2 separate regions of the Homo sapiens genome follow, and region 2 is linked to region 1. A link means that fine-mapping ties the variant in region 1 to the expression of a gene that starts in the linked region. Tissue or cell type: whole blood. Region 1 holds a variant in brackets; the other region holds the start of a gene. All regions are shown on one strand. Distances are between the middles of the regions.

Region 1 (5,923 bases):
TGAAGGGTACGTTATCTCTGATTTAATTTCCTCCTCTTTATGAGACCCCAGGCTTTGTCTTGTTCCTTTCTGGATTTGTGCCTTTGTGGAGTCTTGTTTTCTTGCTGGCTTAGCCTTGCATTGAAAATAACACACATGTCTGGGCGCAGTGGCTCACGCCTGTAATCCCAACACTTTGGGAGGCCGAGGTGGGTGGATCAGTTGAGGTCAGGAGTTTGAGACCAGCCTGGCCAACATGGTGAAACCCCGTCTGTACTAAAAATATAAAAATTAGCCAGGGATGGTGATGCACACCTGTAGTCCCAGCTACTCAAGGCTCAAGAGGCTGAAGCAAGAGAATTGCTTGAAGCCAGGAGGTGGAGGCTGCAGTGAGCCAAGATCACAACACTGCACTCCAGCCTGGGCAACACAGCAAGAGAAAGAAAGAGAGAAACAGAGAAACAGAGAGAGAGAGAAAGAGAGGAAGAGAGAAAGAGAGAGAAAGAAAGAGAGAGAAAGAGAGAAGGAAGGAGAGGGAGAGAGGGAGGGAAGGAAGGAAGCAAAGAAGCAAAGAAGGAAAGAAGGAAAGGAAGGAAGGAAGGAGACCCATATACATTTTTTTTAAATTTTTTATCTAGCATTTCTAGCTGTTTTGTACACAAGAGTTTTTCTGAACATATATAGTCCACCTTATTGCTGGAAATAAAAGTCTCTGCTAAGTGCTTTACATAAAATTGTATTGAACATTCAAAACAATTCAATAAAATCATGTCACCATTTTTTTTTTTTTTCAGAGAAGAAAACAGAGGCTCAGGGAGTTTATGACTGCATTCAGATCCTAGTTCTGACATTTACCAGCAATATGACATTGAATAAGTCAGTCACTCCAGAGGACACCGAGCTCAGTGAGCACATTGGCGAGGCCTGCCCTGCCGGGATGCTGTTTGCCTTACAGTAACACGTAGAATGCCTCAGTGTCTGGCACAGCACTGGTACTCAGAAGACGTCAGTGATGACTGCTGTCTAAAGGGAAGGGATATGTACCTGGGACATGTAGCCTGTACTCTCTTCACTGGGAAGCATTGACAAGGACAGGTCAGTAACTGACTGAATTACCTGGAGGACTTTAAAAGACACAGATCCCTGACCGTACTCCCCCCAGATTCTGATTGTGATACATGGCCGGGTTTGGGAGCCTGTGTCACTGGGGTATGGCTCATGCGGTCTTTGCTGGTCCACTCCCTGGGGCTGTCCTCTAGTGAGTTACATAGAAAGGATAGCGTTGGGTTGGGTGCAGTGGCTCACACCTGTAATCCCAGCACTTTGGGAGGCCGAGGTGGGCGGATCACAAGGTCAGGAGTTCGAGACCAGCCTGGCCAATATGGTGAAACCCCGTCTCTACTAAAAAAATACAAAAATTAGCCGGGCATGGTGGCATGCACCTGTAATCCCAGCTACTCAGGAGGCTGAGGCAGAAGAATTGCTTTAACCCAGGAGGCGGAGGTTGCAGTGAGCTGAGATCACACCACTGCACTCCAGTCTGGGCGACAGAACAAGGCTTTGTCTCAAAAAAAAAAAAAAAAAAAAGAAAGGATAACGTAGTGACTATCACGAGTTGCCAAGAAGAGGGAGAGAGCAGCCCTCGTGGTTAAATAGCAAGCAATTTGCTTTAATTTTAATTTACTTTTTTTTTTTTTGAGAGGGAGTCTCGCTTTGCCACCCAGGCTGGAGTGCAGTAGTACAATTTCGGCTCGCTGCAACCTCTGCCTCCCGGGTTCAAGTGATTCTTCTGCCTCAGCCTCTCTAGTAGCTGGGACTACAGGCACACACTGCCACACCCAGATAATTTTTGTATTTTTAGTAGAGATGGGGTTTTACCATGTTAGCCAGTCTGGTCTCGAACTCATGGCCTCAAGTGATCTGCCTGCCTCAGTCTCCCAAAGTGCTGGGATTACAGGTGTGAGCCTTGTGCCCAGCCACCTTTTCATTTTTTTGAGACATAGTCTCACTGTGTCGCACAGGCAGGAGAGCAGTGGCGCGATCTTGGCTCTCTGCAGCCTCAACTTCCCTGGCTCAAGTGACTTTCCCATCTCAGCCTCCCAAGTATCTGGGACTACAGGAGCGTGTCACCGTATATGGCTAATTTTTTTTTTTTTGAGACGGAGTCTTGCTCTGTTGCCCAGGCTGGAGTGTAGTGTAGTGGCGTGATCTTGACTCACTGTAGCCTCTGCCTCCCGGGCTCAAGCGATTCTCCTGTCTCAGCCTCCCAAGTAGTTGGGATTATAGGCACCTGCTGCCATTCCCAGCTAATTTTTGTATTTTTAGTAGAGATGAGGTTTCACCATGTTGGCCAGGCTGGTCTCGGACTCCTGACCTCAAGTGATCTGCCTGCCTCCGCCTCCCAAAGTGCTGGGATTACAGGTGTGAGCCACCGCACCTGGCTTATGGCTAATTTGTAAACTTTTTGTAGAAAGGAGGTCTCACTATATTGCCCAGGCTGGTCTCCAACTCCTGGGGTAAAGTGATCCTCCTACCTCAACCTCCCAAAGTACTGGGATTACGGGCATGAGCCACTGCACCTGACCTTAATTTAACTTTTTGAATAGGTAATATATGTACATGTTTCAACAACCAAAATGAAATATAAAGAAATTCACTGGAAAGCTCTGTTCCCACCCTGTCCTTGCCTACCCCCGCAACAGGATTCCCCAGCTCCCTATAGGTCACCCACTGTTATTGCTTTCCCTATGCAAATTCAAGCAAATATAAACATTTATTTTTATTTCCACCTCCCTTTCATTCATTGGCTACGATACTACCACTGTGCAAAGCTCTTTTCTTTTTTTTTTTGAGACAGGGTCTCACTCTGTCACTCCTGCTGTCTCCCTCTGTCACCCCTGCTGGAGTGCAGTGGTGCAATCTTGGCTCACTGCAGCCTTGACTTCCCCAGCTCAAGCAACCCTCCCACTTTAGCCTCCTGAGTAGCTGGGACTACAGGTGCGCACTACCACGTCCAACTAATTTTTGTATTTTGTGTAGAGATGGGGTTTCACCATGTTGTCCAGGCCGGTCTCACATTTCTGCAAGTGATCTGTCCCCCTTGGCCTCCCAAAGTGCTGGTATTACAGGCATGAGCCACCACATCCAGCCTCCTCTACCTGCCTTTCTTTTTCTTTTTTTTTTATTTTTTGAGACGGAATCTCGCTCTGTCTCCCAGGCTGAAGTACAGTGGCGCGATCTTGGCTCACTGCAAGCTCAGCCTCC[C/G]GGGTTTTACGCCATTCTCCTGCCTCAGCCTCCCGAGTAGCTGGGACTACAGGAGTGCACCACCTACGCCCGGCTAATTTTTTGTATTTTTAGTAGAGACAGGGTTTCACCGCGTTAGCCAGGATGGTCTCAATCTCCTGACCTCGTGATCCGCCCACCTCGGCCTCCCAAAGTGCTGGGATTACAGGTGTGAGCCACTGCGCCCGGCCTACCTGCCTTTCTTTCAAAAAAGATGACATACTATGTATACTGTTCTGAACCACATTTTTTTTTTTGAGACAGAGTTTCGCTCTTGTTACCCAGGCTGAAGTGCAATGGCACTATCTTGGCTCACCGCAACCTCCGCCTCCTGGGTTCAAGTGGTTCTTCTGCCTCAGTCTTCTGAGTAGCTGGGATTATAGGCATGTGCCACCACACCCAGCTAATTTTGTGTTTTTAGTAGAGATGAGGTTTCTCTATGTTGGTCAGGCTGGTCTTGAGCTCCCAACCTCAGGTGATCCACGGTCCTCGGCCTCCCAAAGTGCTGGGATTACATGTGTGAGCCATCGTGCCTGGCCTTTTTTTTTTTTTTTAGATGGGGTCTTGCTCTGTCACACAGGCTGGAGTGTGGTGGCACAATCACAGCTTACTGCAGCCTCAACTTCCCTGGCTCAAGCAATCCTCCCACCTCAGCTTCCTGAGTAGATGGGACTACATTCATATACCACCATGCTGTCTTTTTTTTTTTTTTCACTTTCTGTAGAGACGGAAGTCTCATTATGTTGACCAGGCTGGTCTTGAACCCCTGGACTCAAGTGATCCTCCTGCCTCGGCCTCTCACCTTGGCCTCCCAAAGTGCTGGGATTATTGGCGTGAGCCACTGCACACAGCCTGTACCACATTTTTGTTTCAAAATATATCCTGAAGATCTTTCCATTTTTCTTGGCATCCTTATTATTTTTTTTTTTTACAGCTGCATAGTTTTCCATTGTGGGGCTATATCATAATTTACTGAACCCTTCACTGTCCAATATGTAGCCACACATGGCTACTTAAATGGAAATTAATTAAAATTAAGTAACATTTATTTATTTCCTTAGTTGAACTAGCTACAGCTTGAATACTCGGTAGCTACGAGTGGCCAGTGGCTGCCATATTGGACAGGGCAGATAGAGAACATTTTCATCATTGCAGAAAGTTCTATAGGACAGTGGTTTAACTGATCCCCTAAAGCTGGACACCTAGTTTGTTTCCAGTTCTCAGGCAGCTTGGGGATGATGGGGCCCATCCCTGGAATGCAGCAGAGCTGGGTGAAAGCTGCACTGGGAGTTCTGGGCCTTCAACCTCAGACCTTGCAACCTGGGAGGCTCCTGCAAGAGGAAGGCTTTTGGATTTGGGGCAGAGGCTTGACCAGGGTCTGGAAGAGAAAGTGGCCCTAAAGAGCAGTCCTCCTTGGAGGTTGCAGTGAGCTGAGATCGCGCCACTGCACTCCAGCCTGGGCAACAGAGTGAGACTCCATCTCAAAAAAAAAAAAAAAAAGCAGGCCTCCTGTTCAAACCTAACCTTTTACCCTCTCCCTCCCAGCCTGCCAAAATGCAGCTCTGTTTCTTTCACTCAATATTTAGCAGACACTTCTTGAGTAACTCCCAAGGATGGTGTCAAGTCCTTCACTGGGGATGTAGGTATGAGAAAGACACAGTCCCTTCCTTGGAGAAACCCGCGGCCCAAAGAAAAAGACAGATCATCAACTGCTCTGTGAGCAGGACTTTTAAAGAGTCATCACCTAAGATCAAAAGGCCTGATATTAACCTGTTTGTGAGGATTTGGGGAAACAGGTGATCTCATCCGTTGTTGGGGATTGTAAATTGGTACAAAATTTTTGGAGGGCAATTCTGTGAAAACCTATAAAACATTTAAGAGCACATAATCTTTGACCCAGAATTGCCATACTTATAAATTTATTTCACACACACACATATGTCTGCAAATATATGTACCAAGATATTTCCTGTAATTAGCATTGTTTGTAGTAATAAAAGGCGGACATACATAAATATCCACTAGGAGGGGAATGGTAAATAAATTGTGACACACCATACGATGGAAAACTATGTTGACTATCTACAGGCAGGTATATTATGACATGAAAATAGCAGGTGCTGAACAGTGTAGAGCGTGTGCTATCATTTGTGTCACACACACACGCACATATACACAGCATATGCTCCAAATAGCTCTGCAAAGATACATTAGAACTGTTAAGAGGCCAGGCGCGGTGGCTCACACCTGTAATCCCAGCACTTTGGGAGGCCAAGGCGGGTGGATCACTTGAGGTCAGGAGTTCAAGACCAGCCTGGCCAACATGGTGAAACCCCGTCTCTACTAAAAATACAAAAATTAGCTGAACGTGGTGGCACACACCTGTAGTCCCAGCTACTCAGGAGGCTGAGGCAGGAGAATTGCTTGAATCTGGGAAGCGGAGGTCGCAGTGAGCTGAGATCACACCACTGCACTCCAGCCGCCTGGGCAACAGAGTGAGACTCTGTCTAAAAAAAAACAAAAACAAAAACAAAAAAACTGTTAAGAGTGGTTGCCTCTGGGGAGGGAATGGGAAACAGGGCAACAGGGAGGCTGATTGGCAAGAGATCTTTCCTTTCTTTCCCCTTCCTTCCTTCCTTCCTTCCTTCCTTCCTTCCTTCCT
Region 2 (5,413 bases), 33 kb after region 1:
CCTGGATGCGGTGAGGAGGGGCCCCTGGCTTGGGGACTGGGGCTGGGGACTGGCTGGTGGCCTGTGGCTTACAATGGGTCCTTGTGCAGCTGTTGGAGATGAAGTCGACTGATCGCAAGCAGACGCTGCTGCACTACCTGGTGAAGGTCATTGCTGAGAAGTACCCGCAACTCACAGGCTTCCACAGCGACCTGCACTTCCTGGACAAGGCGGGCTCAGGTAGGAGACACACAGATCCTTGGGTGTGGGGAGGGGCCGTGGGCTGGGGTAGGTTGGGAGAAAGCTAGGGGGCCACAGTATATAATTGGTGGGAGGGCTGCCTCTCCGATTCACTGACCTGATACTGCCCCATCCCTGGCCCAGTGTCCCTGGACAGTGTCCTGGCGGACGTGCGCTCCCTGCAGCGAGGCCTAGAGTTGACACAGAGAGAGTTTGTGCGGCAGGATGACTGCATGGTGCTCAAGGAGTTCCTGAGGGCCAACTCGCCCACCATGGACAAGCTGCTGGCAGACAGCAAGACGGCTCAGGTGCGCCAGGGCTGGCCTCACCTGGAGGTGGGGCATGTAGGAGCACTAGATAGCACAGCCTGGAGGGGTGTGGCCGTAGCTGGGACCCCTTGGGGGGATGCAGCAGGAATGAGGGGCCACCCTGCCTGGGAGGAGCTCAGATCAGGTGGCCAGTGTCCTGAGGGGTACAGGCTGTGAGAGGTCTAAGCTGGGGGGCTGACAGGCTGTGCCCACAGGAGGCCTTTGAGTCTGTGGTGGAGTACTTCGGAGAGAACCCCAAGACCACATCCCCAGGCCTGTTCTTCTCCCTCTTTAGCCGCTTCATTAAGGCCTACAAGGTATTCGGGTCTGGGGCAGGCTGGGAGCCCTGTAGGGCACTGAAGCCTTTCTACTGGGCAGCGGAGGGGTGGGGCTGCTTCTGTTTAGGGGGTGGGTAGGGCAGTAGGGAGGGCCACCCTCATGGAGACTGCCTTGGCCCACAGAAAGCTGAGCAGGAGGTGGAACAGTGGAAAAAAGAAGCCGCTGCCCAGGAGGCAGGCGCTGATACCCCGGGCAAAGGGGAGCCCCCAGCACCCAAGGTAGGCAACTGCTCCTGGGCTTGGTACTGGGCTGCAGGGATGCATGGCATCTCATCACCCTCTGGTGCCACCCCCACACCCTCACTGTTACAGACTGACCCTGCCCCAGGAGCCTGGGATGGGAAAGGGTTCTTTCTGCTCAAGCCAGCTGTCCTTGCTGTGGGGGACCAGGCAGATATTCCAGGGTTTTGGTGATGGGGAGGCATCCTGGAGCTGGAGCTATAAATTCCCCCTAGTCACCGCCAAAGGCCCGGCGGCCACAGATGGACCTCATCTCTGAGCTGAAACGGAGGCAGCAGAAGGAGCCACTCATTTATGAGAGCGACCGTGATGGGGCCATTGAAGACATCATCACAGGTAAGGGCTTGGCCAGGCCTTGGTCTTATCCTCAGTCTGTCCTTCTATGCTTTCTTCTGACCCAATGCGCTATCCTCTGGGGGACTGGCTGCCACACTGCTTCTTGCTACCTTTTCTGTTTTTCTTTCCTTTTTCCTTTCTCTACTCCCCTTCACCTGCCCCACCCCCACTCAGTGATCAAGACGGTGCCCTTCACGGCCCGCACCGGCAAGCGGACATCCCGGCTCCTCTGTGAGGCCAGCCTGGGAGAAGAGATGCCCCTCTAGCCCCTCAGGTACCCAGATGACCTGGCCTCTGATACCACGCTGCCCACAGCCCCTGGGACCCTTGGGAGAACTGAGGCATGCTGCCTTCTCCTGGGCCAGTGGATGGCTGGGATGTGATTTGTGGGGTGGAGGGGTCTGGCAAACATAAACGGTACCCCTGCCATGTGCACACAATCTGAGTCCTTAGGAGGCTAAGCTTTGTGCCCTGGAGCCATGCTCCCAGCTCTGGGCGGACTCCTGAATGGTAAATGTGTCTCCTTCGGCTGCCAGATCTGCGGAACCAGCCCTACATCCGCGCAGACACAGGCCGCCGCAGTGCCCGTCGGCGTCCCCCGGGCCCCCCACTGCAGGTCACCTCCGACCTCTCGCTGTAGCCGCTATTTCTGCAGGTGGATTCTGCAGGGGTGTGGGGCCGTGGACAGGCTGAGGCTCAAGGAAGGTGGTCCTCAGCTCGGCTGGCCGGGCAGCCCCTCCTCCGCTGTGGCCCGCCTCAAACGGGCTGGTGCATCCTCCTCTTGGCCACAGAGGGCAGCATCGCCCGCCCCTTCCCCCAAATGCTGCTTGCAGCACCCACCCTAAAGCCCCCTCCAAATAGCCATACTTAGCCTCAGCAGGAGCCTGGCCTGTAACTTATAAAGTGCACCTCGCCCCCGCAAGCCCCAGCCCCGAGGACCGTCCATGGACCTTATTTTTATATGAGATTAATAAAGATGTTTGCAAAAGATCCGCGTCGGCTCCATGCCTGCCGCAGCCACCCGCAGCCTGTTTCCGCTCAGCAAACGCTTTACTTGCACAAGCTCTTCATAGCAGGCCTCTGCAAACCAGCGGGCGCCGGGGAGAAGGGCTGCTTCTTCACTAGAGTTGGCGGCGAGGGAGCCCGCTTCGAGGGGGCGGAGGCTTTCGTGGCTGGCCCAGTATCCCTGCGGGAGGCCGGAGGGGGCGAGCGGGCAGCTGGGGTTAGACACGCCGGGCCAGCCCCGCAGCAGTTCTCCTTCCGGCTGCCCCGCCCCATTTGCGCCAGTCCTGCCTCCCACCCGGGCATCTGGCCCCTTTTCCTTTCGCCCTACCCAGTACTTAGTGACGCCATAAGTGACCTCGCCTTACATCTCCGCGCGTGCCGCCTCCGTCACCGCCTGCCGGGTCCCCATTTCTTCCGGGCCTGCCCCCGCTCCTCGCCTGCCCCTCCCCTCCACCAGCCAGTGTCGCCCCATCTGTCTGTCCTCCGGGCACTTGTCCCGCCCCTCACTGCGTGTCCCTCCCCCGCCCGCCGGCTCTCACCTAGGCCGAGACACGCCCCGGGCTGGGCGGGATCTTGGGGCGGCCGGGCTAGTAGGGCTGGATCAGGCGGAAGCCGGGGCCCGGGGCTGGGCTTCGTGTCCTGCGTTCCGGGAGCGCCAACCCCTCCAGGTTAGGAATCTGAGAGTACGGGCTGCGCGCACCTGGGGCGGGTGCCTGGGAGGAGGTGGAGGAGGAGACGGTCCTCAGAACGGGTCCTGGGGGTCGGAGGCGAGGGCGGGGGTTGTAAGTGGCCGGGAGAGGTCCCTCCCGCGGGTCCCGGCGCCCCCCGCCCCGTCGGGGACGCACCTACTTCGTGCAGTTTGTGCAGCGAGCGCGCCAGCTCCTAGTTGGAGAGGTCGCTGATGCGCGCCGCGTGGCAGAAGGCGAGCCCCGCGTGGGAGCGCCCCCCAACCCCCGCAGCCTGGGCTGAGCCGCAGAGCCCGCTGCTTCTTGAAGTAGTAGCTTGGAGAAGAGAGGCGGGGCGGCCGCCTCAGACACTCCCAGCCCTCTCTGTCTCACAGGTGCGGAAGCCAAAGCAGGGCCGGAAGCCGCTGCTTTGTCTTTGTCCTGGGGCGACTTGGGGCCCAGGAAACAGACTCAGAATTCAGGGCTCCCGTCTCTAGGGCAGGAATATCAGGGGTCCCTGCGGGGGGCAGGGTTTGCTCCTCCCATTGTGGGCCCAGGAGCTGGTATGGTTGTGCCCACCTCATCACCCCCCGTGCCAACTTGGAGGGCACAAAGCCCCGGCCCAGCAGCTTGAACAGCATTTCCAAGAACAGGGTCTGCAGTCCCTGGGGGTACAGAGCTGGCTGTTCCTCACCCGGCTTGGGGGCAAAAAAGGTGAAGGAGGGTGAGGAGGGGGCACCCCCTAAGCCAGGCCCACCCCTCCTCCACCAGCCTTGCCCCTCACCCATGCACTGAGCCAAGCGGTGGTTGTCATCGAAGACACCCAGGAAGTCAATGAAGCTTACGATTCCATCACCTGGGGAGAGAGGAGAGGGGGTGCTGTGGGTGCCTGCCCCCTGCAGAAGGCCTGCCTTGCACATGCCTGCTGGCAGTTCCAGGTGTTAGAGAATCTAGTCCTGCCTCTAGCCAAGGGCAGACCCCAGTTTCAATGGGGGAGAAACGGCCCATGCCTTGGGGGTTCCCAAATCAGGATTAGGATGAACACAGCAGCAACGTTTACAGGCCATGAGATAGGTGTGTTGGTCAGGGCAGGCTTCCTGGAAGAGGGAACTTTAAAATAGGACCAGGCCAGGATTTTGTGGGAAGGGGAGGCATTCTTTAAAAGAATGCCTGGAGGTGGGAGGGGACAAGAAGACAGGGTTGGGGCACCCACCATCCAAGTCTGCCTGCCGCAGAGCCTCGAACGTCTCCTGTGGACTCAGCTGGATACCCACATTGCCCAGGGCAACTTTCATGCTGTGCATGTCCACGGTGCCTGTTGGGCTGGAGCTGAAGAGTTTGAAGATATCCTGGAAGGCTGAGGGTAGAGGGGACAGGTGGCAAGACGAACCACCCACACAAGAACCCTGAGAGCTGCCCACTCTAACTCAGGTGGAACTGACGACTTGGCTCATTCCAACTCCCTCCTGGGTGTTTTAAATTTTTATTTATTTATTTATTTATTTTTGAGACAGAGTCTCACTCTTTGCCCAGGCTGGAGTGCAGTGGCGAGATCTCGGCTCACTGCAGCCTCAACCTCCCAAGGCTCAAACGATCCTCTCGCCTCAGCCTTCTGAGTAGCTGGGATCACAGGTACGTGCCACCACGCCTGGCTTATTGTTTAATTTGTTGTAGAGATGGGGTTTCGCCATGTTACTCAGGCTGGTCTCAAAGTCCTGGGCTCAAGTAATCCTCCCGCCTTGGCCTCCCAAACTGTTGGGATTACAGACATCAACCTCCACACCTGGCCTATAACTTTTAATATAAAGAGTAGCAGTGGCTGTTGTGTGTTGGTACATGTTATGTGCCCATCCAGTCCTCATGTCCAAAACTCATGTTTGAAAAACATTCAAAACTCATGTCCAAGGTCACATCTGGCAGTCTGGCTCTGAAGCTACAGTGTCTTGGAGCCCTGCTGGTGCCTGGCATGTAGTAGGCACTGACCATTGTTGATGATGAATAAAGTGATTCTGCTTTGAGGGGCCCTTGCCAATATCAGGACATGTTGTTTGGGGGAGCACTGGGGCTGTAGTTTCTTTTGCCTTTACCCCTATGGTCCTAGACCCCATGAGGCAGGGGAACTCAGATTTTTCCCCCCATTTTTTCTCCTTCTTTACCTTCTCCCTTCTTTTCCATCCTGTTCATCATCCATCTATCCATCCATCTAAATACCTGCATTCACCTATCTACCAATCCACTGAGTTTTCTTTTCCTTTCCTACACACACACACACACACACACACACACACACACACACACACAC

What was found. PIP is the estimated chance that this variant, and not a neighbour inherited with it, causes the effect.
Region 2: MAP3K14-AS1 starts here. The variant in region 1 is fine-mapped to the expression of MAP3K14-AS1 in whole blood (TOPMed, PIP above 0.99).

The regions. Positions count from the first base shown.
Region 1 is chr17:45,211,636-45,217,558 of GRCh38, forward strand. All of the region lies in intron 2 of FMNL1-DT (FMNL1 divergent transcript), which reads right to left. Among named protein-coding and RNA genes, the nearest start is that of FMNL1-DT, 7.2 kb to the right of the region's middle. The variant C/G (reference allele first, on the strand shown) is at 3,244.
Region 2 is chr17:45,244,890-45,250,302 of GRCh38, forward strand. It overlaps MAP3K14-AS1 (MAP3K14 antisense RNA 1), which reads left to right and starts at 3,036. Exons shown (of 4, transcript NR_110326.1): 1 at 3,036-3,114. It overlaps FMNL1 (formin like 1), which reads left to right. Exons shown (of 27, transcript NM_005892.4): 20 at 1-10; 21 at 90-219; 22 at 364-527; 23 at 743-844; 24 at 989-1,084; 25 at 1,321-1,441; 26 at 1,616-1,715; 27 at 1,978-2,429. The coding sequence ends at 1,707. It also overlaps the pseudogene EFCAB15P. RefSeq lists silencers at 589-759, 2,694-3,423 and enhancers at 2,514-2,583, 3,834-3,883.